6 separate regions of the Homo sapiens genome follow, and regions 1, 2, 4, 5 and 6 are each reported to be linked to region 3. The links are microRNA targets in miRTarBase. Many come from high-throughput screens and were not tested one by one. Region 3 holds a microRNA gene; each other region holds the end of a gene's coding sequence.

What was found. The annotated mature microRNA hsa-miR-1304-5p reads UUUGAGGCUACAGUGAGAUGUG and lies in region 3 at 3,601-3,622, opposite strand. An mRNA with a match to its seed (bases 2 to 7 or 8) in the 3' UTR can be bound and repressed. Matches are read on the target gene's strand: a 7mer-m8 pairs with bases 2 to 8, a 7mer-A1 pairs with bases 2 to 7 and ends in A, and an 8mer does both.
Region 1: miRTarBase lists TMEM19 as a target of hsa-miR-1304-5p. Seed matches in the 3' UTR shown: 7mer-m8 at 1,841-1,847.
Region 2: the mRNA of RFC2 is a reported target of hsa-miR-1304-5p. The part of its 3' UTR that is shown has no 7-base or 8-base seed match.
Region 4: miRTarBase lists ELF3 as a target of hsa-miR-1304-5p. Seed matches in the 3' UTR shown: 7mer-A1 at 3,880-3,886.
Region 5: miRTarBase lists OSBPL2 as a target of hsa-miR-1304-5p. Seed matches in the 3' UTR shown: 7mer-m8 at 3,138-3,144.
Region 6: the mRNA of RRAS is a reported target of hsa-miR-1304-5p. Seed matches in the 3' UTR shown: 7mer-m8 at 4,305-4,311.

The regions. Positions count from the first base shown.
Region 1 is chr12:71,700,097-71,705,169 of GRCh38, forward strand. TMEM19 (transmembrane protein 19) reads left to right here. Exons shown (of 6, transcript NM_018279.4): 6 at 736-4,951. The coding sequence ends at 899. Among named protein-coding and RNA genes, the nearest start is that of TMEM19, 17 kb to the left of the region's middle.
Region 2 is chr7:74,227,977-74,233,039 of GRCh38, forward strand. It overlaps RFC2 (replication factor C subunit 2), which reads right to left. Exons shown (of 11, transcript NM_181471.3): 11 at 3,526-4,240. The coding sequence ends at 4,130. LAT2 (linker for activation of T cells family member 2) reads left to right here. Exons shown (of 14, transcript NM_032464.3): 14 at 968-1,858. Among named protein-coding and RNA genes, the nearest start is that of LAT2, 21 kb to the left of the region's middle. RefSeq lists an enhancer at 1,389-1,668.
Region 3 is chr11:93,730,124-93,735,189 of GRCh38, forward strand. It overlaps MIR1304 (microRNA 1304), which reads right to left and starts at 3,641; the gene lies at 3,551-3,641. CEP295 (centrosomal protein 295) reads left to right here. Exons shown (of 30, transcript NM_033395.2): 29 at 1-25; 30 at 108-235. The coding sequence ends at 146. SNORA25 (small nucleolar RNA, H/ACA box 25) reads right to left here and starts at 523; the gene lies at 390-523. SNORA32 (small nucleolar RNA, H/ACA box 32) reads right to left here and starts at 976; the gene lies at 856-976. It also overlaps SNORD6, SNORA1, SNORA8, SNORD5, SNORA18 and SNORA40, and 1 more gene.
Region 4 is chr1:202,014,405-202,019,477 of GRCh38, reverse strand. ELF3 (E74 like ETS transcription factor 3) reads right to left here. Exons shown (of 9, transcript NM_004433.5): 9 at 2,295-4,269. The coding sequence ends at 4,155. Among named protein-coding and RNA genes, the nearest start is that of ELF3, 6.4 kb to the right of the region's middle. RefSeq lists enhancers at 777-1,545, 5,048-5,073.
Region 5 is chr20:62,293,273-62,298,342 of GRCh38, reverse strand. OSBPL2 (oxysterol binding protein like 2) reads right to left here. Exons shown (of 14, transcript NM_144498.4): 14 at 2,160-4,558. The coding sequence ends at 4,456. Among named protein-coding and RNA genes, the nearest start is that of ADRM1, 7.2 kb to the left of the region's middle.
Region 6 is chr19:49,631,181-49,636,253 of GRCh38, forward strand. It overlaps RRAS (RAS related), which reads right to left. Exons shown (of 6, transcript NM_006270.5): 5 at 4,554-4,672; 6 at 4,112-4,480. The coding sequence ends at 4,396. Among named protein-coding and RNA genes, the nearest start is that of RRAS, 6.4 kb to the right of the region's middle. RefSeq lists enhancers at 1,396-1,895, 5,015-5,073.

The sequences.
Region 1 (5,073 bases), not on the chromosome of region 3:
CTTCCTCCCCCTCTCCATCAGTCAGAATATTTGTTCTCCATTTTGTTAGTCTCATTTAGATTTTAAGGACGAAGCAATCTGATCTTAATTCTCACTAAAGGGTCAATAACTCTACACGCACACACAGACAGTAAACATGTTTTTTAAAGAGTGTAGGTTTTATTCTAAATTGGGTTCTAACTGGGGAAGTTTCTGATTGCATTGAGTGGGTTGAAAAGAAATGCATGCAGTAGGGGAGATTTTGTAAATCTTTGTGTGCCTCCTTTGTGCCAGCCCCATGCTCAACCCTGCGTTTACAGTACTGTGGCCACAGACATGATCCCTACTCCCAAGGACGTCATAGATCAGTCTTGGAGGGGAACCACTGGGAAGGCAGGCCCAACCTGCCAGTTTCATGCCCTCTCTGCTTTTCATGTTCTCTCTTCCACTTCTGAAGCAATTCCAGAGGTATTGACAGAAAATTACTGAGAACCCATTTATTCAAAGAGGCCATTTGTAATCAAGGGTCCCATGTCTCTCATCATATAAATGATCCATTAAAGTCATTTAGCAAGTCACTTAGAACCTTTCAAAGATTGTCTCCTTTGGAGGAAAAAGCCTATTTTGTTCTTTTTTTAAAATCAAGTACATGTACCCTAGAACTTAAAGTATAATAAAAAAAAAAAAAAAGAAAGAAAAGAAAAAAAATGAAGTCATTTGGGTTTTCTATCTCACTTGCTTCTTTTTCCATTCCAGGGTTGGATGAAAGCACTGGCATGGTGGTCAACAGCCCAACAAATAAGGCAAGGCACATAGCAGGGAAACCCATTCTTGATAACAACGCAGTGAATCTGTTTTCTTCTGTTCTTATTGCCCTCTTGCTCCCAACTGCTGCTTGGGGTTTTTGGCCCAGGGGGTGAACTTTATTTCATTTCCACAGGTTGAAACTGGTGAGTCCAGCTAAATTTGCAATTCCAACTTTCATCCTAAGAATAATAACTGTAATGGCAAAGCGGAAATGCCAGTTCCTCCTGTATTCCATTGAGATGGGATTTCACATTTTCCTCTCATCAACTCCCCTGTAATAGCTAGCGTCTTTCTAGTGAAAGAGAAGAATTCCTAGAACTTATGCATTTTTTTCCTGCTGAATGGAAGTCTTGAGCAATGAAGCTATATTGTCCCTACATATTACTATATATTGAACTGAAAGTTCTTACATAATCAATGTCAAGTTTTGTCTTATTTTGTTTTGTTTGTTTAAACCAGTGTAGGAAATAAAAGTGATGATATTTAAAATAGTTCTCAGTTGAAGCAGAGAAATGCCACTGTGCTAGTTGCCCAAATGTTGTATCTATTTTAAATAGTTTAAGCTGATGTGTATGGGAGCCTAAACAAGTGTAGTATCCTGAACTTCTCCCATTAATTGCTATTCACAATTGGGAAAAGTGTGGAGATTGGTTCCTAGTGAGTTTTGTGGCCTACTCCACATTTGTTCTTCCTTCCTCAGGGTTAGTGATGAAAAAAAGTAAATATCTTTTTCATATGTCCATTAGAATGTATGAAAAAAATCATTTTAACTAAAAGCAAAAGAATTTTATCTTATATCTAAAAAATATATAACTTACTATATGTTTCAGTTGCTCTCTGAACAAAAATTATCTTCAATTTAATATGTGGAATGTGTTTTCTAGCTTTCTTTGAATTATGTATGGCAACCTGGTTTAGCACTGGCATCCTGAACAGTTAAGAGTCACTGGGAAATTATTGTATTTCTTTATAAATTTACTGTCATATCAATTGCTGGAAAATGCTATGATTTTTCTATTATTACCTTCTAAGTTGTATTCTCTCTTACACTGTAGCCTCAACTAAGGCAATTCTGCTATGTTTGTTCTTCACTATGATTTACTGTGTGCCAAAGGAGTTTTGACAGGGTACAGAGTATTTTACTAAAAGTATTTTTAAATGTTTCTCATGTGATTTCTGTACCTTCTTCCTCCTGCCCCTTTTGCTTTTTTAAAGAAACTGGGGAAGGATTTATGAATACACCACCACCAGAGTGGATAATGCTTAGAATTCTTTATTGGTGGCCCTACTATGGTGATGATCTAGAACTGACTTACTTCAGGACAGAAGAAAAAACAATCACACCCTTAACCTTTAAGCCAGTTAGATCAGGGGGTTGCAACAATTGGGTTAAACTTTGGGTATACATTGGAAGCACCAGGGCATGTTTGCTTTTTTTGTTTATGTGTTTGTTTTTTGAGACAGAGTCTCACACTGTGGCCCAGGCTGGACTCCAGCACAGTGGCATGATCTCAGCTCCGCCTCCTGGGTTCACGTGATTCTCATGCCTCAGCCTCCCAAGTAGCTGGGATCACAGGCGTGCACCATCACGCCCGGCTAATTTTTGTATTTTCAGTAGAGACAGGGTTTCGCCACGTTGGCTAGGCTGGTCTCGAACTCCTGACCTCAAGTGATCTGCCCATCTCAGCCTCCCAAAGATCTATTACAAGATGTGAGCCACTGTGCCCAGCCACCAGGGCATGTTTTTAAAAAAGTACTGATGTCTGGGTTTCACACTGCAAAATTCTGATTTATCTGATCTAAGGTACAGCCTGGATATTGAGACTTTTTAAAGCTCTGACTGTACATTGAATCATCATGTAAGGAGTTTTTAAAACATTGTTGCCAGGGCCCCTTTCTAGACCAAGTTAGTCAGAATGTTGGACAATGAGGCCCATGCATGGGTATTTTTACAAAGCTCTCTGGGAGATTCTAATGCTTAACCAAATTGAGAAGCACTGAATAAGAATATCCTGGGCCGGGCGCACTGGCTCATGCCTGTAATCCCAGCATTTTGGAAGGCCGAGGCGGGTGGATCACTTGAGGTCAGGAGTTCGAGACCAGCCTGGCCAACATGGTGAAACACCGTCTCTACTAAAAATACAAAAAATTAGGTGTGGTGGTGCGTGCCTGTATTCCCAGCCACTCAGGAGGCTGAGGCAGGAGAATCGCTGGAACCTGGGATGTGGAGGTTGCAGTGAGCCAAGATTGCACCACTGTACTCCAGCCTGGGCAACAGAGGGAGACTCCATCTAGACTCCATCTCAAAAAAAAAAAAAAAAAAAAAAAAAAAAAAAAAAAAAAAGAATATTCTAAGCACTAGAACTACATAAGAATGTCCTAAAGCACTGTATCTAAGCACTTGAAAAGAATGGGACTTTTCGGTTTTAGGGAGATAACTATTAGCAACCACACAATATGTTATCTTTATGGATGAATAACTTCTGGTAATGACACAGTGTCTTACAGCTACATCATTTATAAAATCATGTGTCAGTTTTCACACAGCCTGCACATCGTTCTGACATGCCCTTTTTTTCCCTGGAGATTTATCCTCATGACATACAAGGGGACAAAAATATTTATTGGGACTGTCTTTGAATTTAGTAGAATCACTGTATCATTAACAGTTTGGGGAAGTACTGCTTTGCAGTCCTTTATTTGAAAACTTAGGTCTAGCTGTGTTTTGCATCAAAATTTTTGAGCTATTCAAAAACTAATAGGATCTGTGTAAAATATTTCACTCAAAACTACTAAAAAAAAGTCTGGGATGGCAGCTCATTATCAAATATACTCCTATTTTTGTGGTGATTTATGAACATCCCCACTAAGTATAACTAAAGATCATAAAGAGCCTCAGATCAAGTTTGGTCAGGTTTTGTCACCAAGCTTTGTAAATAAACTGGTTTTCATAGCTTTTTGGAGATGAGAATTGAGGATAAGAAATTGTGTCTCTGTCCTTTTTTTTTTTTTTTGTTAAGTCTTACATGTATTTTACTGTAACATCTTTTGAATTGGATATTTAACTAATTCAACATATTTTTCCTCTTTGCAGAATGGGCAGTTCATGTTAAAATCACTTTTCATGGAAAGAGCTCTATGTAACAGCATAATAAAACTGCCTACCTAGCAGCATAAAGGTGTACTGTTTCTTATCATACTGTTCCATGATAGAAGAGAGCAGATATATGTGGCTTGGGGCAGCTCCTGAAGAAGACTTGCAGGAGTAGCATGTTGAAAACTCATTAAATGGAGCCACCAAGAGACCAAAGAATTGATACAGCAGGTCATTCTATTATTAGCTTTTCTCATTACTTGAGTTATCTGTTTCTCACATATATCTTTCCTGTTTCTAGCTGCTGTACACATAGGATGCTGCCTGCAGAAATAGCAGCCCCGCCCCAATTAGATAAAGGACTAGTATAGAGAAAAAGCATGTGAAATGATGTTTTAAACTTTGCCGCATACCTGTGATATGAACAGCTGCTGCCTGTTAGGCACAGTGGGTATACTAGGGCCCAATCATCTGATCTTCCTGAAGTTTTATGTAATGTTCCCAGTGCTATCACAATGAGAATGATCTATACTAGCCACCAGATCTCAGGTGAATTGTGGTGTGCTTTAAAAATGAAAACACAGCCGGACGAGGTGGCTTATGCCTGTAATCCTAACACTTTGGGAGGCCGAGGCGGGCAGATCACGAGGTCAGGAGTTCAAGACCAGCCCGGCCAACACAGTGAAACCCCATCTCTTAGCCGGGCATGGTGGCGCATGCCTGTAGTCCCAGCTATTCAGGAGGCTGAGGCGTGAGAATCACTTGAACCCAGGAGGCAGAGGTTTCAGTAAGCAGAGAGCGTGCCACCGCACTCCAGCCTGGGTGACAGAGCAAGACTCCATCTTGAAAAAAAAAGGAAAACACAATTATGTGGCTTAATTATTTAATCTCCTTTATGGAGTATCTGTTTTTATAACTCCAAGTGGTTCTTGATATTTTAAAAATACTTAAGCATTCAATATGTATTCATTGAATTAAGTTGTTTGACTCTAATCATTGTTTCTTTTAAGAATGACTGGAAGGTGATAATCAGCACCATATTCCTGGAGGAAAATACAAAATGAAAAACCAGTTTGGCTACCTGAATTTCTGAGAACTGGAATGTTTCCAGCATTTTTCAATCATGCAAAACAATATTAATGCTTTTGAAACTAATGAGCCAGGAAATTATTGAAGAAGTGAAGGAGTGGCAG
Region 2 (5,063 bases), not on the chromosome of region 3:
ACCATCCTGGGCAACATGGGGAAACCCCATCTCTACTAAAAATACAAAAATTAGCCAGGTGTGGTGGCGTGTGCCTGTAATCCCAGCTACTCGGGAGGCTGAGGCACGAGAATCACTTGAACCTGGAAGGAGGAGGTTGCAGTGAGCTAAGATCGCACCATTGCACTCCAGCCTGGGCAACTACGTCTTAAAAAAAAAAAAAAAAAAAAAAAAAAAAAAGCCAGGCGCGGTGGCTCACGCCTGTAATCCCAGCACTTTGGGAGGCTGAGGCGGGCGGATCACAAGGTCAGGAGATCGAGACCATCCTGGCTAACACAGTGAAACCCCGTCTCTACTAAAAATACAAAAAATTAGCCGGGCATGGTGGCAGGCGCCTGTAGTCCCAGCTACTTGGGAGGCTGAGGCAAGAGAATGGCGTGAACCCGGGAGGCAGAGCTTGCAGTGAGCCGAGATCACGCCACTGCACTCCAGCCTGGGAGACAGAGCAAGACTCTGTCTCAAAAACACAAAAACAAACAAACAAAATGGGCCAGGCGTGGTGGCTCACGCCTGTAATCCCAGCACTTTGGGAAGCCGAGGTGGGCGGATCACGAGGTCAGGAGATCGAGACCATCCTGGCTAACATGGTGAAACCCTGTCTCTACTAAAAATACAAAAAAAAAAAAAAAAAATTAGCTGGGCGTGGTGGCGTAGTCCCAGCTACTTGGGAGGCTGAGGCAGGAGAATGGCGTGAACCTGAGAGGCGGAGCTTGCAGTGAGCCGAGATCGCGCCACCGCACTCCAGCCTGGGTGACAGAGTGAGACTCCATCTCAAAAAAAAAAAAAGAAACCCAGTTATTGATGTGCGGCTTCTGTTCTCAGCCAGGAGGCAGGCTCAATGGTGTCCCCAAACCAGTGGTTATGGTTCTCAGGAACAAAATACTGATCAAGGCAAACCTCCTTCTACAAACTTTCCTCTTCATTTAAGGAGCCAAGGCAAAGAGGGACCACTGTGCTCATGGACCCATCGCTGCCTTCCAAGGACCATTTCCCAGAGCTACTCAACTTTTAAGCCCCTGCCATGGTTGCTCCTGGAAGGAGAACCAGCCACCCTGAGGACCACCTGGCCATGCGTGCACAGCCTGGGAAAAGACAGTTACTCACGGGAGCTGCAGGCCCGTCACCAAGCCCTCTCCCGACCCAGGCTTTGTGGGGCAGGCACCTGGTACCAAGGGTAACCCGGCTCCTGGTATGGACGGATGCGCAGGATTTAGGATAAGCTGTCACCCAGTCCCCATAACAAAACCACTGTCCAACACTGGTATCTGTGTTCTTTTGTGCTATGAATTTGGATTCCTAATTGCTATTGTTGGTTGCTGGGGTTTTAAATGATTGATAAGCTTGTACAGTTAACTTATAGAGGGGGAGCCATATTTAACATTCTGGATTTCAGAGTAGAGATTTCTGTGTTGTCTCCTAGAAAGCATTACATGTAGTTTATTTCAGCATCCTTGTTGGGTGGGGCCCTGGCTCTCTTCCCCTTTGGTGGGACCTCCCCTTTCTTTGGGCTTCAGTTCACTCAGGAAGAAATGAGGCTGTCGCCATCTTTATGTGCTTCCAGTGGAAATGTCACTTGCTACAGACAATAGTGCATGAGAGTCTAGAGAAGTAGTGACCAGAACAGGGCAGAGTAGGTCCCCTCCATGGCCCTGAATCCTCCTCTGCTCCAGGGCTGGCCTCTGCAGAGCTGATTAAACAGTGTTGTGACTGTCTCATGGGAAGAGCTGGGGCCCAGAGGGACCTTGAGTCAGAAATGTTGCCAGAAAAAGTATCTCCTCCAACCAAAACATCTCAATAAAACCATTTTAGTTGAAAAGCAGTGATTATCCTGTGTCTCCTTTCTCCTGCTTCAGGTAAAAAACCTTTTATAAAAATATAAAAATTAGCCGGGCCTGGTGGTGCATGCCTGTAGTCTCAACTACTTGGGAGGCTGAGGCAGGAAAATCACTTGAACCCAGAAGGTTGCAGTGAACTATGATTGCATCACTGCACTCCAGCCTGGGCAAGAGGGAGACCTTGTCTCAAAAAACATAACAAAACACGGCCAGGCACAGTGGCTCACGCCTGTAATCCCAGCACTTTGGGAGGCTGAGGTGGGTGGATCACGAGGTCAGGAGATCGAGACCATCCTGACTAACACAGTGAAACCCGTCTCTAATAAAAATACAAAAAAATTAGCCGGGCATGGTGGCGGGCACCTGTAGTCCCAGCTACTTGGGAGGCTGAGGCAGGAGAATGGCGTGAACCCGGGAGGCGGAGCTTGCAGTGAGCCGAGATCGCACCACTGCACTCCAGCCTGGACGAAAGAGGGAGACCTTGTCTCAAAAAACATAACCAAACACAAAAAGCCTTAAGGGAATGGCGGCCACAGCTCTTGTTTAATAAAAAGGGACCCTGAGAGCATCAGGGCTGCGGATGGGATCTTAGTTCCCAAGTCCAGCCGTCTTTCTGGGATGGCCCAGGGACTCTTCCCATGAGAAGAAATTAATGCGACAAGTTAGGAAATCAGAAGAAACATCTAGAACCCAACTGCCGCCCACCTGTTACTTCACATCCTGAAGTCCTGACTGTACAACCTCAGGGACAAGTTTCTCTTCCTTTTTTTGTAAGAGTCTCGCTCTGTCGCCCAGGCTGGAGTGCAATGGCACCATCTTGCCTCACTACAATCTCCACCTCCTGGGTTCAAGCAATTCTCCTGCCTCAGCCTCCTGAGTAGCTGGGATTACAGGCGTGCGCCACCATGCCCAGCTAATTTCGTATTTTAGTATTTCGTATTTTAGCCACCGTGCCCAAATGGGCCAGGCATGGTGGCTCACACCTGTAATGCCAGCACTTAGGAGGCTGAGGTGGGAGGATCACTTGAGGCCAGGAGTTCGAGACCAGTCCCAGCAATATAGTGAGACCTCATTTCTACAAAAAATTTAATAATTAGCTGGGTATCGTGGTACATGCCTGTAGTCCCAGCTACTCAGGAGGCTGAGGTAGGAGGATCACTTGAGCCCAAGAGGTTGAGGCTGCAGTGAGCCAAGATTGGCCCACTACACTCTAGCCTGGGCGACAGAGTGAGACCCAATCTCAAAAATCAAAACAAAACAAAAAGGGAAAAAAATAGTATCTTACCAAAAAAAAAAAAAAGGCAATTCTACAAATTAGTACGAAATTCTTTGGGGAATTCTAAAGCAAGCGCAAAGAGTATGGTCTAGAACACAGGAAGAGCATCACGGTGTTTTCCTGAGGGCTGGGCTGCATCTCTCCACTCTGCCGCCCTCTCTGAAAGGCTCGCCACCTGGCCATTCTGAGAAATCAGTCTAAATAGGAAAGACAGCAAACCCTGCCCTCGCCCTGGGGAAGTGGCGCCTTCAGGCTTCTAGAAGAACCGAGATGAGCTTGTGGGTCTACTATCTAATCGCCTTTTCTACTTGTAGGCTGCCAAGGCCCGTAGAGACAGGAAGCTGGTTTTTCTCGAGGCTTCACATGGTCACCTTATTGCCAACAAACACTGCAAGGCTTTATTAGCTAAAATGTCAACCCACACACAGATCAGAGACCGCCCTCAGCTTCTCTGCGCCTTTCCGCCCCGTCACCGCATCAATGGGGTGGAGGCCAAACTCAAACACTTGCGGGGCACAGACGTCCCAGAAGCAAACATGCAAGTCACGGGAGTTTATTTATTTAATTTTTTTCCCCAGATGGAGACTCTGTCGCCCAGGCTGGAGTGCAATGGTGTGATCTTGGCTCACTGCAACCTCCACCTCCTGGGTTCAAGCGATTCTCCTGCCACAGCCTCCCGAGTAGCTGGGATTACAGGTGCCCGCCACCACACCCAGCTAATTTTTATATTTTTAGTAAAGACAGGGTTTCCCCATGTTGGCCAGGCTGGTCTTGAACTTCTGACCTCAGGTGATCCACCTGCCTCGGCCTCCCAAAGTGTTGGGATTACAGGCGTGAGCTACCGTGCCTGGCCAGCCACTGGAGTTTAAAGGACAGTCATGTTGGCTCCAGCCTAAGGCGGCATTTTCCCCCATCAGAAAGCCGCGGCTCCTGTACCTCAGAATAGGGCACCTGTAAGTCAGTCAGTGAAGTCTCTGCTCTAACTGGCCACCGGGGCCATTGTCTTCTGACACAGCCTTGCCAGGAGGCCTGCCATCTGCAAAAGAGAGTTCACTCCTTCCGCTATTTTCATGTGAGTGTATCCAATTTCCTGAAAAACAAACCAAATTCAAATCTGGTTAATAAGTGGGGGAGTTCTTTTTTAAAATCTGAACTGAAAAAAATAAAAATAAAAACAGAAACAAACTGAACTAATGGTTTTTTCAAAATCAGCATGAGGAATTCCAACCCCAGCCGGAAAATGAATGCTAAGATGCAATGGATTATGTTTACCTAAAGTTCTATTTATTTCTTAAAAGGATGCTGATAGTTCTTTCAAAGAAACTGTTAAGAAAATGGGTGGGGCGAGGGGGGGCGGGGTGGTGGCACGGAAAGCCAGGCTAGAGGAAAATATTTATATATCTGATAAAGAACTTGCATCCAGACTGTATAAAGAATTCTCAAAAATTCAGTAATAAAGTCCAGGCGTGGTGGCTCATGCCTGTAATCCCAGTACTTTGGGAGGTCAAGGCAGGTGGATCACGAGCCCAGGAGTTCGAGATCAGCCTGACCAACATGGTAAAACCCCATCTCTACTAAAAATACAAAAATTAGCCAGGTATGGTGGCGCACGCCTGTAATCCCAGCTACTCGGGAGGCTGAGGCAGGAGAATCACTTAAACCTGGGAGGCGAAGGTTGCAGTGAGCTGAGATAGTGCCACTGCACTCCAGCCTGGGCAACAGAGCAAGACTCCATCTCAAAAATAAATAAGTAAATAAATTCAGTAATAAAAATCAAACAACCCAATTAAAAAATGGGTAGATTTAGACCTGGAGCAGTAGCTCACACCTGTAATCCCAGCATTCTGGGAGGCTGAGGCAGGAGGATCACTTGCCCAGAGTTGGGCCTGGGCAACATAGCAACACCCAAACTC
Region 3 (5,066 bases):
AGCAAGGGCAAAAGAATTCCATAAGGTGAGTATAACTGAGGGAGAAGGACTTAATTTTTCAAGCATGAAGTACACAACTGAAACTCAAATTTTTATTCCTTCCACAGAAAACACTAGAGAAACTTCGAGCCAAAAATACATGCTGACTTTCTAGAAATAGTGTAAAGGTTTTTTAATTGTGTATATGTAGCATTAGACAAAATTATTTAAAGTCAATAAATTGTTATTCGAGGAATTCCATGTTGTGATTTCTTCCACTGTCCATCAAGGTCACTTTAGATCCTCTAAAGAGCTGGAGTCAAAAGATTTATCTTCAAGTTTGCCCTGAAGAAGAGAAATTTTGATTAACCTTTAAAACTCTCACATGGCAACAATCCTGGATTATTACGTTTTATATCTCCTCAGGAAAACATAGCACCAAACATTAGGAGTGCTATGGCTTCCTATAGAGAACTTCCATCTTTGGTCACAGCGTTAAGAGCTCTGGGTTTCACAGCCTCATAAGCCCTCTTTGAAATGACCCATACAAATGTCTTTTCTAATGCATACATACCTTTTTAATGAAACTGATCCAGTTGTCCTGTCAGCCCTACATAACAATAGTATAAAAGTAAATTTTACATTTCCAGAGATGAGTGTACAGTGAGTGAACATGAATGAGTCCCTAGAACGAGCCTGAGTTAACTCTACTACAAACTGCTTGGTTATTAGCAACCCACAAGGGTTACAATATAAAGGCAAAGCAAATTTGCATGATTCAAGAGATCTAGGAGAATTTTCAAATCTCACTGATTTTAAAGAAAAATCACATGTGGTTCACATTTTATTTGTATTGCATTTCTATTACAGTTAATCAACTGTTCCCAATAAGCTGATTGCTAGCAAAGTAGCAGATAGAAAACCTACTGGGAAATTTTTTTATGGTCATGTCCACAGCAAATGAGAAACTGCATTCTAAAAGCCTTGGTAATGACCATTACACCCTTGAGCAAATAACTTATAGTTAAGATAAAAACCATTACTTGCCATAATTACTTTGGCTTCTGTCATCTCGTTTTAATATGGATATACTGATGAAGACTTCAAAATTCACCTGTGGAAAAATGTGTATTTCAAATTTATATTTACTATTAAGTACATAAATCTATCTTTCAAGAATGAGGTTGCTTAGGTTCCAAAGTATCCTGAAACCCGGCACCCCAAGTAAGGTATTGAAAATTCTATGCTTAAAATAGCTATTTAAACTAATAGGTATTTTTAAAAATCAATGATCCCATGCCCATTCATATCCGAATTTGCTCTATGATCATGTTTCTGGTAACTTTTACCTTTGAGCTTTTATAATCTTCTGAAATACAATGCAATATTTAATGTAAATGGATGTTCAGAAAGGCCATTTTCATTCAGCCCCTTCAGAGCAGTTGAACATTTCGCCCATCATCATAACATCGTTAATAATGAAGTTTAAACACATAATAACGTAAGCCTAGTCCTTTTTTTTACTCCTAAGTGGTGATAGATGTTGCAATAGCATTGCTAGATAAATAAATAACCTAAAATAACATTTGGAGAAAAGCTAGTATTCAACAAAATAACCTGCATGGCCTTTTAAGTAATGAATTAACTTACCAAGAATCTTTGGGATCTAATTTCTTCAACCAATTTACTTTAGGGTCCTAGAAGTTGAATTGTACAAAGTACAGTTACATTTTGACACCTGATCCAAGACACAGTAATGTATACCACATTACAATGTTTCAGTCAATATACAGCACATAAAAAAAGTGGTCCTATAAGAGCTGAAAATTCCTTATTAAATGTTATTTCTAATATTGAAAAGTCAACATTTTTCTCCTACATTTTTACTCATAAACATAGCAAAATGTTACAGGTCTCATTGTCACCACTGCAATATGCATACTGTGATGGAAGCATAACCTGTCTCAATTTAGCCACATTAACTATTTTTGGACACCATGATCAACAGTGCCCATTCTCTAGAATGAGGCATTGTAAAAGTCTTTAAAGCTTAGTAGTGTATTTGTACGAAGTTCTTGTTATGCTGGCAGTGCTACTGATAGAGGGAAACAAGCAGAATCAATAGAAACAGAGAATCTTACCTTTTTACTGTAGGTGGTGGGGATCTACCTGGTTCTCAATTTGACACCCTGGAAAAAAAAGCATTGCTTACTATTTTAGAGTATATCAAACTGAACACTCTGAGAAACCTACACAAATACTGTATCAGTAGAAATACCAGGTTTAACAAGCACAAAGCCAAGAAAACCAACGATGCCAGATACTGAATTTCTATAGCACTGACCTTTGAACACCCTAGCAGGTGTAAACTGCTGAGTGCAGATACCATGCAGTGCAATTATGACTGAACTGTACAACTCGTATTCCCAAATTTGCAATATTGCTGAGAAATGCTTTCACAAACCTCTCAAATTCCTTTAACAAGTACAATAATTTGAGCTTTTTTCCTAATTGTCACTGTAATAAGGAAGCTACATTAACTACATTTTAAGCTACAACTCTAGTCTTTGCCTAATCTTTGCCCAGTCTCTCTATAAAACTTAAAGATGGAATATATACATGTAACTTAACAGATCAGACAACAAACGTCAAGCTCATTGTTGCTCAAACTGCCAGTTACACAAAATTCTTTTTATGTAATTCATATCCCTATTGATTCAACATATCCACACAGGTTTACGTGACTTTAGGATGAAATATGTGTAACTGCCAGTTGAATAATGATGCAAAGAACACAGGTAGTTTCGTTTGGTAGGTATAGACATGCAGTCTCTTCATTTTCCTTCTCTATACAAATATATACATTGTAATATTTTTGCCAGTATCTTACTAATTCTGTGTTATACCTGAAATACTGGGATGGTGTAATTTCTATTTTTCATCTTTTGAGTCCTTGATTATTATAAGTTAAATATTTTACTTACCTCTCAACATGAATGAGTTCAAATCACATTCATTCCTATAGAAAGTACCAATTAAAGATTTAGAAAGGATACATTTCCAGTTATTAAAACTAAAACCCAAGTATAAATTTAAGATCCAGTTTATTATACAGCCATATCCAGCTCTGTCAGAATTAAGTTTTAGTTCATGCCCGTTATCATTCAGCAGTTGAACAGTTAAATTCATCATCTGAACTGTAATCATTATTTCCCAAAAGATTATACTGTCACCAATTAAAACTTACCTAAGCGATCACTCAAGAATGGTACAGATGTGTGGAGTATGCCAATACCTAAGGTAAAAAAGTAGATTATCTGGTTTTTCATAACGTTTAGCAACCGTCTTTTTCAAACTTTTAGCAACTGTCTTGTAATTCCTTCCCACAGATCTAACAATAGTCCTGTGAGTAAAGTAAAACCACAGAGTTACTCTATGAGGCGTTTCCAACGATGTGCAGGCTACAGGAAAAGCCCCATCGGGATAGACCTCAACCACTATTTACAAGGTTTTGATTTTTTTTTAAAGACACAGGATCTGCCATGTCTTTTAAAAATCGTGTGATTCTTGCTGAATCACTTGAGCCCAGGGGTTCGAGGCTACAGTGAGATGTGGCAGGATCACATCTCACTGTAGCCTCAAACCGCTGGGCTCAAGTGTTTCTCCTGCCTTAGCCTCCAGAGTAGCTGGGGACCACAGGCACCACTGTGTCCAGCTAGTATTTATACACATAAATAACAAAGTCTAACACTCCATAGGAAAGAAATTATGAGCAGAAACTGCAATATGCTCTTACAATATTGCCAACTGCAGAAACTTCCTACTACGTTAATCACAAAAACAATAATTTCACAATCACGTTGTGCTTAGGAGCCAGAGGAATGATAAATAAAAAGTAACATCAAGTAGCTCCTTTACATGAACCAAAGGAAAAAGATTTAAACTTAAGATTTAAGTTTAAAGTCTAACTGTTGTTATGAACTTCAGTATTGCAACAGAGGATGTTGTTTTCCCAATTCGAAGATTTCAGCAAATTTTAATTCTTGGCTCAAAATTAATTGTCATCCATTATAAAATACAGGAATATAATGTGCCTGTAAGTTACGACTTTGGCATTATATAACTTTTAATCAAACTCTACATCATTCAAATTTATGAATTCTTATGACCTGTGTAATCATCTTTTATTATACTATATTTTGCATTAAACCATAAAATCCTCTGCCTCATTTTAGATTGTGCATTAATTCAAAATAATGCTGTAGGCTTCAAGTAGGAAATCCAAAGTTCTGATTATTGCTACAAACTAACAAATTCAGGACCCTCTAATGCTTGCAACTAAAATGAATCTGACACATCACTATAAAATGTGTGAATCTAGGATTCTTCTTTTCAGAAATCAGTATAAATGGGAATTAAAAGCATGGTAGAAATGTCCCTGAATAAAATGAAACTTGCTCTGACAACATACTGTTTCCTACACATAAACAAATATGATGTGAAAACTCAAATTGAGACATACCTTTAACTCCAGACACCATGTTCTCAAGATAAAAGCCTTTAAAACAAAAAGCCATTGTGTATATCATCAACATGAAATTGGAATGCAAAATTAATACTGCTGAGGATTTCCCTCATATCCCATGCTGTTTATCTATTCTACAGGCCTGGAATCAACCTTTTTTTCTTAAGAGACAGGGTCTGTCTTTGTTACTCAGGCTGGAGTACAGTGGTGCCATCAAAGCTCAGTGCAGCCTCCAACTCTGCCTCAGCCTCCCCCCTTTCTGAGTAACTCCAACTACAGGCACATGCCCCAGTACCCAGCTAATTTTTAAATTTTTGTGGAGATGTGTTTCTTACTTTCTTGCCTAGGCTGGTCTTGAACTCCTGGTTTCAAGCAATACTCCCACCTTGGTGTGGGGATTGCAGGCTTGACCCATTGCACCTGGCCTGGAACCAACCTTTATGGCTATCAATACTCCCATCAATCAACTGTCTCAGGTATCATAATATCCCTTCTTATATGTATCAAAACTCATACTGAACAATGAGTTCTGGGTTGCAAAAGAGGATTTATTTTTTGCACC
Region 4 (5,073 bases), not on the chromosome of region 3:
CTCAAACTCCTGACCTCAGGCGATCCACCCGCCTCGGCCTCCCAAAGTGTGGGATTACTGGCATGAGCCACTGCGCCCAGCCTAATAATTCTTTAACAAGGGCCCAGGCTTTCACTTTGCACTGGGCTCTGCAAATTACCAGGCCTGTCCTGACTGGAGGCAAGGGCTGAACCCATCTGGTGGGGGAAAAGGGCCAAAGAGGAGGTCAGGAAATGCTTCATAGAAGGACCCCGAGGGAGGAGGTGAGTCGTGCAGGCAGGCCTGGGTGTGGCTATGTGAGACTGTGAGGTGGGAGTGTGTTGCGTGCGCTGGTGTGTGCAAGTGTGTGAGGTTGTGAATACGGTCCATGCGAGTGTGTGAGAGCAGGCAGCGTCTGCAGTGCGTGCAGGGGCATGTGAGTGAGGGCTTGTGAATATTTATCTTTGTGAGTGTGAGTGTGTGTGACTTTGGTTCCCATGAGTGTGTATGAATGTGTGTGGTGTGTGGGGGAGGTAGTGGCCAGGGCAGGGAGAGTCACGGGGCCATTTAGCAAATATTTATCGAGCACCTCCTCTGTGCCAGGCGCTGTGCAAGGTGCTGAGGTGAGTAAGCCCCAGCACTTGCCCAGAGGTGCTCACAGCCCGGCGAGAGAGAGAGATGTGTAAACAGACAACAGCAGAGAGAGAGAGCAGATTGAAACCAGACTCCTCAGAAATGCAACCCCTTCACCCACTTCCCCCAGGAGAAGCCAGACTTCCCCAGAATTGGTGGGACAGGTGGGGCTGTGGGATAAGCCAGGAACTGTCCCAGGGGGCCAACCCCAGCCCCTCCTCAGGCACACCCAAACACGACGGGAGGGGTGACCTCCCTCTGACCTGCTCAGCGACACACCCAATCCCACAGAAGCAGATAAGAGGTGACCAGCAGCTCCGGCAGGGCGGGATATAAACAGCCCGGCCCTGTGGCTTCCTCCCCACCCCCACTCCCCAGCCCAGGACACACCTGAGGGGATGCAGACTCTGGTGGGCGAGAGACCGGGCCGTCTCCTGCTAGGAGGCCCCTGGGCTGGTGAGAGTCGGGGTAAGGGTGACTGGTGCCCGACAGAGAGGGCAGCACGGAGGCCAGCCCAGGGGCCCGTGCCAGGACTCTGCAGCATCCTGAGGGGTGAGAGGGCAGAGAACTGTTGGGGAGAAAGGCGTCCCTCCCAGAGCTGCCGTCTTCCAGGCTGTCCCAGGCGCTGCCCTGCAGAGGCCACCTGCCCAGGTGGTCTCACTGAGCTGCAGCGTGGAGGCAGGCATGCTGTGAGCTGGCCCCGCTCTCACCCAGTCAGTGACTTCAGCCCACCACTAGCCTTGTCAGTAAAATGGGGACACCTGGTCTCCTCAGCGAGCTGTGGGGCGGATCAAATGAGATAATGGGATGAGGAAAGCGCCTCATAAACTGCAAATGGCAGGGCAAAGGTCAGCACGCAGCGGGCAGCACCTGCCCCCAGCCCTCCAGAAGAGGGTGAAGGGGCTGAGCGCCATATTCCCAGCCCTCCTCCCTGCTAGGATCTCCTTTAGAAGCTGAAGAGGCTGGGAGTCAAGGGAGGCTGAACAAGCATGTCCCGGGCTCTAGAGGCCCCTCCCCCACTTCTTGGCTAGGTGACTTCAGGCCACACTGGGTCACCTCTCTTCTTTTTTTTGAGACAGAGTCTCCCTGTGTCACCAGGCTGGAGTGCAGTGGCATGATCTTAGCTCACTGCAACCTCCGCCTCCTGGGTTCAAGTGATTCTCCTGCCTCAGCCTCCTGAGTAGCTCGGACTACAGGCGCGTGCCAGCATGCCCAGCTAATTTTTGTATGTTTAGTAGAGACGGGGTTTCACCGTGTTGGCCATGATGGCCTCGATCTTCTGACCTCGTGATCCTCCCGCCTTGGCTTCCCAAAGTACGAGGATTACAGGCGTGAACTACCGCGCCCAGCTGGGTCACCTCTTTTAAGGGTGCAAGGACCCCGAGATATTGTGGCTAGGGAAACTAGACCAGAGTCTAATGCATAATTTCCAAGAAATGGGGTCATTTTTAGACTAAGTAGCTGTGAAAGCTTCCCCAGCTTCTGAGGCTAGACCTACGCCCTGGCCCGCATCCCCTTTGTCTAACTGGCTCACACTTCAGAAGGGAAATGTAAGTAAAAGCCTTTTTCCAAATGGCTCCAGGATTCTGGTTTCTCTCATGACCTCACTTTCCTCTCCAATCAACTTCCCCACTCTCCTTTTCCACCATTCCTTGCTTCTCCAGAGCAAGCTGCATTTCCAGAAATCCACACACAAGCTTTAGTTTTTCTAAGATCCCTTCTTTATCCACATCACTTCAGCCAACAATCTGATTGGTATTTCCAAGACAACAGAGCAGTATTTCAAACTCATGAATGGGATTTTAATGTGCTGTATGGAATTTGAAGCCTCAAACTTAAGGAACTTTCCACCTGGAAAGCATTCTTAAGTAACATCAATGAACTGTCCTCCCTAAAACCTAGACACAGTATCACTGTGGAAACAGAGTAATAGTTCTGGAATCGATTGAGGATTAGGTTAGAAGCGCCCACACCAGGAAAAGCTTCCGGGAAACGGTTTTAGGACAGAATCAAGGCACACCTGTGGAACCTCTTTCTGCATCTGTCAAATGGGGACGCTGTGTCTCCTCTCTTCTTAGGAGAGGATTAAATGAGCCAGAGTGGGCTAGCACAGTGCCTGGCATGAGACTACAGTTTCACTGGGTGCTATACTCACTACCTGGGTGACAGGATCATTCGCATCCCAAGCTCAGCATCACACAATATACCCATGTAACAAACCTGCGCACGACCTCCTAAATCTAAAGTAAAAGTTGCAATTAAAAAAAAAAGAGAAAAAGACTACACTTTCAACAAATGCCAACTCCTTCCCTCATTCTTTCTCAGCAAGTACTCATCTCCATTTTGTTTTGTTTTTTTTTTTTTTTCCTTTACAAGATCCTAACTCTGATTTTGTCAGACTCAAAAGCTGGGATTCATATTACAGATATACAGTTTACAGCACACTTGGCTGGAATGCAAAACCATCTATTCCACAAGGCCAGCCATGCAATTCTAGACATCTTGAGAACATCAGGTCCAAACCCTAGCCTAATAGGAAAAATCAGTCCTAAACAGGACAGACTTGGTCAAGGTCAAGGTCACTCGAGCGGTGTCATGACAGCAGGATGCTTCTGACCTCAGTGTTCTGAGTTCATGTCCTTGCTTGCATGAAGTCTTGTAAGCGTTCTCCAACAGTCTCAGCTGCTTCCTTTGCTCGCCTCCCAGCCCAGTCCATGTGTCTGTAAGCCCACACCTGCTACAGGAAATCTGTAACTCCCCTCTTCGTCAGCCTTTGCCCTCACCCTCAGCCTGGTAGACCTTCATTTTCCTCCCCTCCAACCTCTTGACCATATTCGATCCAAAGGCCCAAATTTCAGTACACAGGTAGCTAAGACAAAGGTTAGAAAAAGCCCAGAAGGCACTTTATTGGAGGTCTCTGCCTCCATTCACAGGAGAAAGGAGCTGGGAGCCCCATCCTAAGGGTCCCAGCATCAGCCCACTGGAGGGCCTGGAACAGTCCAGCACTCTGTGGGAGAGGAGTGGGGAGGGGAATGTTTTAGAAAAAATAGATCTCTATGTACATCTGACATATTTATATAGCACATAAATTAGGGAGTGCTCTGACCCCTGCCCGTGGAGCCCAAGCACTGAGCAGGGAGGTGAACGCCAGTCCAGAAAGAAGGTGCTGGAGCCCCTGCTCTGTCCTCTCCATCACGGTGCTCCCCTAGGGCCTCCCCAGGCCTCCTTGGCTCAGTCCAGGTGTCTGCAGGAGGAAGGTGTTGTCTGCATTTAGTGTCTGAGACTGGGTTTGAGGAGGCACCAGATAAAAGGAGATACACTTGCAGCTATAAAGTCAGCTTCAAACCCCAGGGCTTGTAATTCCAAGAGGAGGGTGGGGAGGCGAGGCCATAGTCTCCGAGTCCCAGGACGATGGCTGACAATACACCAAAACATCAGCTTCTCTCCACAGCACAGCTGGGAGCATTCCCCAGTGGAGGGGCCATCTGGCCTGCCTGTCCTCCCAGGAAGGTTTGCAGGCCTCGAGTGGTCCGTGAGTTTGGTCCCGGGTATAGTTCCAACCCTCAGTTCCGACTCTGGAGAACCTCTTCCTCCTTCCAGCCGCTTGAGTTTTTGCCAAACTTGTAGACGAGTCGCCGGCCATCCACCCGTTCCAGGATCTCCCGTTTGTAGTAGTACCTGGGTGAAGAGAAGGATGGTCAGAGGTGCTTTGGCAGGAAATGGGCCCCAGGCTGCCAGCCCGCCCACCTGGCCCGCGTTACCCCCAGGTAACCCATGCCCACTGGTCTCTGCCTGACTAAGCTGAGCCTGACTCACACTTCCTAAACTCCTCTGTTCTTCACACTGGCAAGCAGAAGCTCTTTCCCTACACTGGCCTGTAACCGTGCCCAGGACACAGGGCTCTTTGCCTTTGCTTCTTTGTATCCTATGGCTGTGACTGGGGTCTGATCATTAAATTACATGACTTTTAAGGCCAGGGAGCTGGGCACGGTGGCTCACACCTGTAATTCCAGCACTTTGGGAGGCTGAGGCGGGCGGATCACTTGAGGTCAGGAGTTCGAGACCAGCCTAGCCAACATGGTGAAACCCCCGTCTCTACTAAAAATACAAAAATTAGCTGGGCATGGTGGCAGGTGCCTGTAATCCCAGCTACTTGGAGGCTGAGGCACAAGAATCACTTGAACCCGGCAGGCAGAGGTTGTAGCGAGCCAAGATTGTGCCACTGCACTCTAGCCTGGGTGACAGAGCGAGACCCTGTCTCGAAAAATAAAAAGAAGAAGAAGAAAAAAGAAAAGGCCAAGCATACTGGCTCACACCTGTAATCCCAGCACTTTGAGAGGCCGAGGCAGGAGAGTCATTTGAGGCCAGGAGTTTGAGACCGGCCTGGCCAACGTAGAGACCCTTGCCTCTATTTAAAAAAGAAAAAGAAAAAAAAAGTAAGTACATGATTTTAGGGCTGGACGGGATCTTAAGATGATCTAG
Region 5 (5,070 bases), not on the chromosome of region 3:
TTGGCACTGACAGTTGTTAAATATTATAAAATAAGTGCGTTCTGCTGGCATCTTTTCTCAGCTGCCATGTCCTTGCTGCCTGCTGGGATGAATGGCACTGGAGGAGGAGCTGGGTGAAGGCACGGGGAGGGGTGAGGGCCTGCAAGGTGTGGGCGACAGGAAAGCCCGGCTGCACACCATCGCCCTCTGCAGAGCCACCGTCGTGCTCCTAAACATCTGGCCACGGCAGCCTGGCTCCCAAAGCTCACCAAGCGAAGGACCGACTGTGAAGTGAACTTCGTACCCAGAGCTGGCAAATGTGGCTTTCGCCTCACAGAAATTTTACATCAGCCTGTAGAAGACGGTGAGGAACCATCTTTTGAGGGGTCCGAGGGAGACCCAGCTCCCGTGCTGCCTGGCAAGCAGCAGGAGCCACCGCCACGTTCTCGGCCACGGCAGGGGCCCCGTCTTTTGTGTCCACTTTACACACAGGCAAGTCCAGATGTGGCCATCAAAGAAAACTGGGACCATCAGGACTTCCTGCAGATGGATCGAACTCTCCTCTGGGGTCCAGCTGCGCCCCTCGTCCACATCTGTGCTGGCTGGAGGGTCAGGGCTCCACTCTGCCCGACAAGCAGTCTGGTGCAGGGGACGCAAATGTCACACCCAGCAGGGCCCGGCACTTGGAGACCTGAACTCTGTCGCCCAGCTCAGTGGGAAGCTCACCAGAACTCGTAACTGTCTTTGCTTTGTTTTCCTTCACGGAAATGACAAGGACCTGTAAAACTTGTAAATCCCCATTTCTGCTGGGGAGAAATTTTCCCCAAAGAGCAGGATGCCTTGTGAGGAGGCCTCCAGGCGTTTCTCTTGTCCTGTTCTAACCTCCTGACCTTGTGTTCAGATGTGCCTGGCAAACCGGGGCAGGTCCTTGGTGTTCAAGGCCAATGCCCCAGATGGACAGCTCCATGCTCAGACACGTGGACAGTGGGGTGCCCGGAGGCCACCAGGGTGGCATGTGGCACTTCTCCAAGTGCCGGGCCCTGCTGGGTCTGACATTTGCGTCCCCTGCACCAGACTGCTTGTCGGGCAGAGTGGAGCCCTGACCCTCCAGCCAGCACAGATGTGAGCTCTGGGGATGGCGTCTGGAAGGGGTGGTGGTGACCGGGAGCACCTGCAGGCACCACTCTTCCTGTACCGGCTTTCCCACTTGCCGCCGGAGGCTGGGAAACTCACGGTACACACAGGCACCTCCCCACGACCAAGGCATCTGGGCCGCTGGCTCGCTCTCCTCCCAGACAGCAGTCTCGGGAGGGTCTGGCTTCAGGACAGCCTGCACCAGCAAAATGCCGGATGTCCATCAGGGCTGGGGACCAGGGCCAGCTGTCCCCCACTTCCCACAACCCAAGCCTCGCCCGGTGAGAAGGCTGCAGGTGTTGGTGACACCCGACCCTTCACCGTCCTTGGACACTAGGGCAGGGCAGACGTCGCCACGTGGCCAGCGACTCAGATCCACACCGTCATCCCAGGTGAGCCTGGTGAGCAGCAGCATGTGCTATGTTGCCAACACGTGCTTTGCATGTGGCTCTCCGTGCTTTGCATATGGCTCTCCGGGAGGCATGCCTGTTCACCGTTCTGTCTCCAGCAGCTCACAATACATACACCCTGAACCAATGACCATAGAACCGAATTCTCATTTCAATTAGCAATAGAATCCAACCAAGGTATTAGGTTCTGTTGGGGAATAAGCTTGCTAGGTTTTTCATTCTGTAAGGACATCCTACATGACAGGATTAATTTTTTAAAAGAACCAAGGGCCTGGCACAGTGGCTCACACCTGTAATCCCAGCACTTTGGGAGGCTGAGGCAGGAGGATTGCTTGAGCCCAGGAGTTCAAGACCAGCTTGGGCAACACAGTGAGATCCTGTCTCTACAAAATTGTTTTAAAAAAATAGCTGGGTTTGGTGGCATGTGCCTATGGTCCTAGCTACTTGGGAGGCTGAGGCTGGAGGACTGCTTGAGCCCAGGATGTCGAGGCTGCAGTGAGCTATGACTGCACCACTGCACTCGAGCCTGGGCAACTGACCCTATCTCTAAAAGTGAATAAAGCACCAAGACCCTTGGTCAAGGCCATACTCACACCCAAACGCGTGGCCCACGAGAAGGCCATCACTTTCCACACATTAAGTGGTGGCCATCTTTATTAGAGATGTTTAACATTCAATAGATATCCAAGGTGACAAAAGTTAGGTCATGGTTTATGTGTTAGCATTTGCAGAAACAGTAACAAAAAGTAGTAAAAAGTTAAAATAACCTCGACACACAGCCGCTTTTGCCATCAGCCTTCCTACCGTTCTTCCTCCACCTCTGGTTTGGTGTCTGTCCTCAAGGACAGCAGAAGAGGGGCTGTCTGTGCAGCCAACCAGCCCCTGAAATACCAGGAGCCTGGTCCTAGAAGAGGACTTGGAAACAAACCCGTGGGCAAATTATCTTAACCAGTAACAAGTGGAATGATCAGTAAGAACTCGTTAAACCTCCCTAAATGCAGTCACTTTCAATGTGTCTGAGTCTCACCTCTGGATGTTCTCAGCTTGCAACCTTTCTTGGAGAAGGAGCCGGTTCACAACCACAGTCTGGAAAAGCAGATGACCCTCCACCAGAGGCACCTGGGCTCCACATTCCAGCCATCGGGGAATTTCAAAGTCTCCTCTTTGAATAACGCCACAATCCTGAATCCTCAGACCCAGCTACCAGTCACGGAGCGGTTCTGTTCAGACACTTTTGAGTGGCTGGTACGGAGCTCATAGGCCCCGAGGATGACACAGGACTCGGCACCAAACACCATCGCTTCCAGCTTCCAAAGCTACAAAATCAAGCTTTCAAAACGAGTGTTCACTTCCAGAAGTGCTTCCGTCACAGGTGTGATGTGGACGCCAAGACACACGCAGGTGGCACCTGTCACTCAGAAGTGCCGGCCTGAGTAACCTGGACTCCATGCAACCGCGTGTCAGCGTGTGCATGAGTGTGTGCGTGCGTGCACACAACCGACGGTCTTTCAAAGTGCTCCACTGTGATCTCTCGTGTTGACAATTCTACATGAAAAAAAATCAGTCACGGCCAGGCGCAGTGGCTCACGCCTGTAATCCCAGCACTTTGGGAGGTTGAGGCAGGCAGACTACTTGAGGTCGGGAGTTTGAGACCAGCCTGACCAACATGGTGAAAACCCGTGTCTACTAAAAATACAAAATCAGCCAGGTGTGGTGGCGCGTGCCTGTAATCCCAGCTACTTGGGAGGCTGAGGCAGGAGAATCGCTTGAACCCGGGAGGCGGAGGTTGCGGTGAGCCGAGATCATGCCATTGCACTCCAGCCTGGGCAACAAGAGTGAAACTCCGTCTCAAAAAAAAAAAAAAAAGGAAAGAAAAGAAAAAAAAATCAGTCACTTGATAAAGGTGAATGCTGAGATGGACACATACCTATTTTTGGTTAAATAACTTTAATTACACCACTGTAAGTAGATTCTGCCTCTGACCCTCCCACAGGACACAACCGGATGTGATTCTTGTCACTTCTATTTTAAACATGCATACTGGGAAAAACAGAAACACAAGAGTGCTATGGGTACACGCGACGTGTGAGAAGAAAGGAACCCCCTGGAGACACGGACGCGGTGTGCGGTGACAGCCAGGCCTCACTGACAACAGGGCAGCGAATCGCAGCCGGGACGCCTCTGAGGCGGAAGCAGTCTTGGGATTTCCTGTCACGCTCTCGATGCTTCTGCCCACTCTGGTTTGTCACGGGGATGCTTCATTTTGGACAGTATAAAACCGGTGATTAATGCATATCTTGCTCTTCAGCAAAATACTATTCAAGTAGTTTTAACTTAAATATTTTAAAAGTAATCTTTACATTATTGAAGATTGTTAAAAAATACAGAATCTGACAACTTTTCACTCAATCTGATGCTCTGAAACTCTTCACTTCTGTTTTATCATAATTTAGAAGGCAATCCCTGGCCTCTATAAAACTCTCTGCAGGATTAGCTTCAAGATCCATCTTTCCCCCACTGGTTCGAGTTTAAAAGGCTTTCAGAACCTTTTGCCACTGCATTATAAAGAGAACATGAACCCCTTCCCATTACTTCCTTTAGCTACACATGCTATGACTGAGAGTGTGCTGGAAGCTAAACAAGCCCCAGCTGATTTCTGCCACATAAAAGGGCGCCGTGAAGAATTTCCCTGTTGAAACCTTAATGAAGACGATGATCCCAAGTGAAGCTTTATGAAGAGACGGCACAGCAGAGTGAAATGTTTGGCAATCAACAGTTAATTAGAATTACATCCTTGATCAGGGATGATGCTATCTCCGCGAACTCAGTCGTTAGAAAAGTTGGTTTCTGCTGTGACGAGGCTCACAGTGGCCACTCGAGGAAGTCCAGCCTCGTCAGCCTCCGGTCCCGGGCCCCAGGCCCCTCCAGGCCCTCAGTAGATATCTGGGCAGTCGGAGAAATTCCGCTCAAAGTAATCCCCTGCATACAACCAGTCGGGGGTCCCAGTGTAGGGGTTATTGCCTGGGTAGAACCACCTGCCGGATACAAGGGAGGGGGGTCAGAAGATGCTCAGCCCAAAAGGAAAACGCAGCCCTGTTCTGGGTGCAGGAGTGTGTTCCCCCAACTCAGCACCATCACGGTAACGTGGGTTTTAAAATGCAGCCCAGCGTAACAACTTCAACGGAGAATTATTGATCACGTGGTCATGTGAATGCTGGAACCTAAAGATATCCAGCCACCCGTGTCAATTTCACTTCCCAACAAAATCTTGAGGGTTTAACTCAACACAAAATCCTCACACTGGGCCCTTATCAGAGAAGTTACTGGAGCCTAAATAATGCCTCTCCCTTTTCAAGGCAAAAGCAGTTACACTGTTCACATGTGCTGTCATTTAAAGCAAACCAAGTATTGGTTTTTTTAACTGAGGACAAAGGAAGACATTATAGGCAAAGAGAAGGTAGCACAGGGCCTGAGTGTTGGCGCTGGTTCAGCCGCCGTCCACAGCCCCCGGCTGGCACTCAGGGCCCGAGGGGTGTCCTTAGTGTTG
Region 6 (5,073 bases), not on the chromosome of region 3:
TGGTGAGATCTGGGAAGAGAGATGTTGGCACAGGACTCCTTCCTGTTGGGGGCTCAGTACCCGCAGCTGGGGCTTAGGTGGAAGTGTCAGAGCTTGTTTGGAAACTGATCAAAACATTGCCCACCCTCTTGCCCCACCACTCCCCATCCAGCAGGGGTGGACCCCTGGTGTGCAGAGTTCCTAGCAGGGAAGAGAGCCAACATGTGACAGTACATCCGAGCTGTACTTTTTCCCAGGGCAGAAGGTTGAGAACAGGCCAAAGATTCTGTGATAATAGAACCCGGAAAGGGATATTTAGCTAATCAGTTTTTTTTTTTTTTTTTTTTTTTTTGAGACAGAGTGTCGCTCTTGTTGCCCAGGCTGGAGTGCAACGGCACGATCTCAGCTCACTGCAACCTCTGCCTCCCGAGTTCAAGCGATTCTCATGCCTCACCCTCCCAAGTAGCTGGGATTACAGGCGCCCGCCACCACACCCGGCTAATTTTTGTAGTTTTAGTAGAGAGGGGGGTTTCACCATGTTGGCAAGGCTGCTCTCGAATTCCTGACCTTAGGTGATTCGCCCGCCTTGCCCTACCAAAGTGCTGGGATTACAGGCGTGAGCCACTGCGCCCAGCCTGCTAATCCGTGTTCTAATCCGGGATACAGAGGGACATTCATGGTTCTGGGGCAGAATGGAGACATGTCAGCCACAGTCATTGATGGTGAGCACTTAGTATGCGCCGGGCTCATTCCTCCTCTGCAATCGTCTCCTTTAGTCTCGTGCTCACCCTGTGAAGTAGCTTTGTACTTACCCCCATTTTACAGATGAGACTGAGGTGGCAGAGCTGGATTTGAATTCAGGCATCCCGGTCACGCAAAGGCCATGCTCCACCCTAGGACTAGGAAGCAGGTTCCAGGGTGGGTGCGAGTAGAGCATTCAGGGATCAGGGGCCTGGGTATAGGGAGCAGATGTTTGACTGCTGATAGGTTTCAGGTGGAGCCTCAAGTTCAGGGCATCGGGACATCTCGGTTGAGGTGTTTTGTTTTGTTTTTGTTTTTTTTGAGATGGACTCTCGCTCTGTCGTCCAGGCTAGAGTGCAGTGGCGCAATCTCGGCTCACTGCAACTCCACCTCCTGGGTTCACACCATTCTTCTGCCTCAGTCTCCTGAGTAGCTGGGACTATAGGCGCCTGCCACCATGCCCAGCTAATTTTTTGTATTTTTAGTAGAGACGGGGTTTCACTGTGTTAGCCAGGATGGTCTCGATCTCCTGACCTTGTGATCCACCCGCCTCAGCCTCCCAAAGTGCTGGGATTACAAGCATGAGCCACCGCGCCCGGCCGGTTGAGGTTTTTAGCCTGGTGTGTTGGGTAGATTTGGGGCTTTAAAGATGGCCGGTCACACAGGCTTGGGAGGTGGGTGGACAGTGGTCTCCAGTTGGCTTCAGCCTTCCAGGGTAGCAAATAGTGGGCAGGACTGCTCCTCCCCCAACCAGAGCTTAGGTTGGATGTGGGAGAGTCCTAAGTGTCCCCAGGCTGGGCATGGTGGATCATGCCTGTAAATCCCAGAGCTTTGGGAGGCCGAGGCAGGAGGATTGCTTAAAGGGAGGAGTTCAAGACCAGCCTGGGCCACATAGCGAGACCCCATCTCTACAACAAAATGAAAAATTAGCCAAGTGTGCACTCGTAGTCCCAGCTACTTGGGAGGCTGAGGCAGGAGGATTGCTTGAGCCCAGGAGGTTGAGGCTACAGAGTTGTGATCACGCGACTGCACTCCAGCCTGGGCAACACAGTGACACCCTGTCTCAAATAAATAAATAAAATGTAAAAAACGAAGTGTTCCTAGGACACAGATGGGCTTTGGGTATCCAGACTGAAGTGTGTCATCCATTTACCCACTGTGGCCTTAAGACACCCAACACTTCTGCTTCTCCCAGGACAGAATAGGGGGTTGGATGGGGGATGTCCACACTGACCCCAAATTGGATTAAGTGTTTAGATTCAGATTTCAGTGCTACTGGGAACTTTCTGAAAATGAGGACTTGCCAGACGGCTGCTTGGACACCATTCCACCCACCTGTCCCTTCTCGATATACATTGAAGGTGAGAGTGGGACAGGCAGGGTTTGTAGCAGTTGCTCCCTGTCTCTATTTTTGTAGACAGAGTCTAGCTCTTGCCCAGGCTGGTCTCAAACTCCTGGCCTCAAGTGATCCACCCATTTCGGTCTCCCAAAGTACTGGGCTTACAAGCGTGAGCTACCACACCCAGCTGAGTTGCTGCCTGTCTCCAATGTCCTAGAACGTTCTATTGGAATGTTCTAGAAAGCACTATCCAATAGCCCACTCAGCAATGATAGGAATGTTGTCTATCTGCCCTATCTATTAAGATAGCCACTAGAGGCTGGGTGCGGTGGCTCACGCCTGTAATCCCAGCCCTTTGGGAGGCCGAGGTGGGCAGATCACTTGAGGCCAGGAGTTCCAGACCAGTCTGGCCAACGTGGCGAAACCCCGTCTCTACCAAAAATACAAAAATTAGCCGGGCATGGTGGCATGCGCCTGTAGTCCCAGGTACTCAGGAGGTTGAGGCAGGAGAATCACTTGAGCCCAGGAAACAGAGGTTGCAGCAACTGGAGATCCTGCCACTGCACTCCAGCCTGGGTGACAGAGCGAGACTCTTGTCTAAAAAAAAAAAAAGTCACTAGCCACATGTGACAACTGAGGTCTTGAAATGTTGATTTGACTGAGGAACTAAGTTTTATTAAAATATTTTTTATTTTGTTGTTGTTGTTGTATTTGAGACGGAGTCTCGCTCTGTTGCACAGGCTAGAGTGCAATGGCACAATCTCGGCTCTCTGCAAACTCCACCTCCCGGGTTCAAGCTATTCTCATGTCTCAGCCTCCTGAGAAGCTGGGATTACAGGCGCCCACCAATGCGCCCGGCTAATTTTCGTATTTTTAATAGAGACAGGGTTTCACCATGTTGGTCAGGTTGGTCTTGAACTCCCGACCTCAGGTGATCCATCCGCGTGGGCCTCCCAAAGTGCTGGGATTACAGGCGTGAGCCATCGCGCCTGGCCTTTATTTTTATTTTTTTTATTTTTTATTTATTTATTTTTTGAGACAGTCTTGCTGTCGCCCAGGCTGGAGTACAGTGGCATCACCTTGGCTCACTGCAATTTCTGTCTCCCAGGCTCAAGCGATCCTCCTACCTCAGCCTCCTGAGTAGCTGGGACTACAGGCATGTGCCACCACACCCAGCTAATTTTTGTATTTTTGGTAGAGATGGGGGCGGGGGGGGGTCTCACTTTATTGCCCAGGCTGGTCTCGAACTCCTGAGATTAAGCGATCTGCCCACCTCAGCCTCCCAAAATGCTGGGATTACAGGCATAACCCACTGCATCCAGCCAAATTTTATTTAATTTTAATTTAAATAGCCACATGTAGCTTCTGCCTACCATATTGAAGAGCGCATTCTATAACTTTCTAGGAAAAAAAATTCCTTCATCAGATGTTCAAAGTTTATCCCAAGAAAATACCCATAAGGTCAAGAGATTGAGACCATCCTGGCTAACATGGTAAAACCCCGCCTCTACTAAAAATACAAAAAATAAATTAGCTGGGGGCGTGGTGGCATGCGCCTGTAGTCCCAGCTACTCGGGAGGCTGAGGCAGGAGAATGGCATGAACCCAAGAGGCGGAGGTTGCAGTGAGCTGAGATCACACCACTGCACTCTAGCCTGGCTACAGAGTGAGACTCCATCTCAGAAAAACACACACACACACACACACACAAACAGAAAAGGGTAGAATCGCCCTGTTGAAGGGAAAGTGGGGGGTCTAGGCACTTGGTTATGCTTTATAAACTTCTTCTGCTCCTCCCCAAGCAATAGGTTCTAGATGCGAGGGTTCTAGGTGGAGGGAGGCCTTAGAACATGTGTGCCCTGAATTCGTTCACCTTCCCAGAGTTCATTCCCCCACCCTTTTTTTTTAAGAGATGGGGGTCTCGCTATGCTGCCCAGGCTGGTCAAAAACTCCTGGACTCAAGCGGTCCTCCCGCATTGGCCTCCCAAAATGCTGCGATTACAGGAGTGAGCCACAGTGCCCGACCCTCATTACCTTTTTAGAAAGCACCTCCTGACGTTGGCAGTGACATTTATTTTTCTGGGGGAGGGGAGTTATATACAGCAGTGACCCGGAGCCCCTCACCCCCACCAGGCTTAGGTGGGGACAGGAGGCGTTGGCAGAAGGCACACAGTGGCAGTAGCCCAGAAGAGGCCAGGAAGTAAGGGTGGGTATGTGATGTGTCCTGGGAGACCCAGATGAGGAAATTGAGGCTCAGTGAGGGCCTCAGGTCACACAGCAAGGTGCGAAGGCAGCTAGTCCCGAGAGCTTGTGGTGGTTGCTTCTCTCTTGCCTGGGCTACAGGAGGACGCAGGGGCAGCCCCCGCCCTTCTTCCTGGGGGCACTGGGAGGGCTCGGTGGGAGCTCTTGTTCCTGGTATTTCCTGTGGGAAAACGCCAGTGAGTTTGGAGTGGAAGGGCTGGGGACAAGGACGACAGGAAGGGGACTTGGCTCACCGGACAGCCCGCACCAGCTGCTCAAAAGCCTCGTCCACGTTGAGACGCAGTTTGGCCGAGGCCTCAAAGTAGGCCACGTGGTGGGAGGCGCCGAAGGCAGAGGCTTCTGATCGGGGGACCTGGGGGTAGGGGGGACACGGGGGAGTCAGGTCCCTGCACTCAGGGTGACCGCAGCCAGAGAGACAGACAGGCAGGCTGGATACTCTAGGAGAGGTGACCCACTGTGAGAACTCAAAGAGGAAGAGCTCCTGAGAGATTATGGAGGGAGATGCCGCAGGGGCTTGGTGTCTTCTAAGTAAGGGATGGGGGCAGGCTTCGTGGGCACTTGCCCTGCTATGCCTTAGATAACCAGGAGTGGGCAGGCAGGGAAGTCAGGGTGTTCCCGGCAGAGGCAGGCGGAACCCCAAAGCCTGGAAATCCCCAGAGCCTTTGCCAGATGGATGAGTTCTGTGTGGAAATCGTTGTGGGGGAAGTGATGGGAGCAGGGAAAGGAGGGGCGCAACTGTGCGGGGCATCTGGC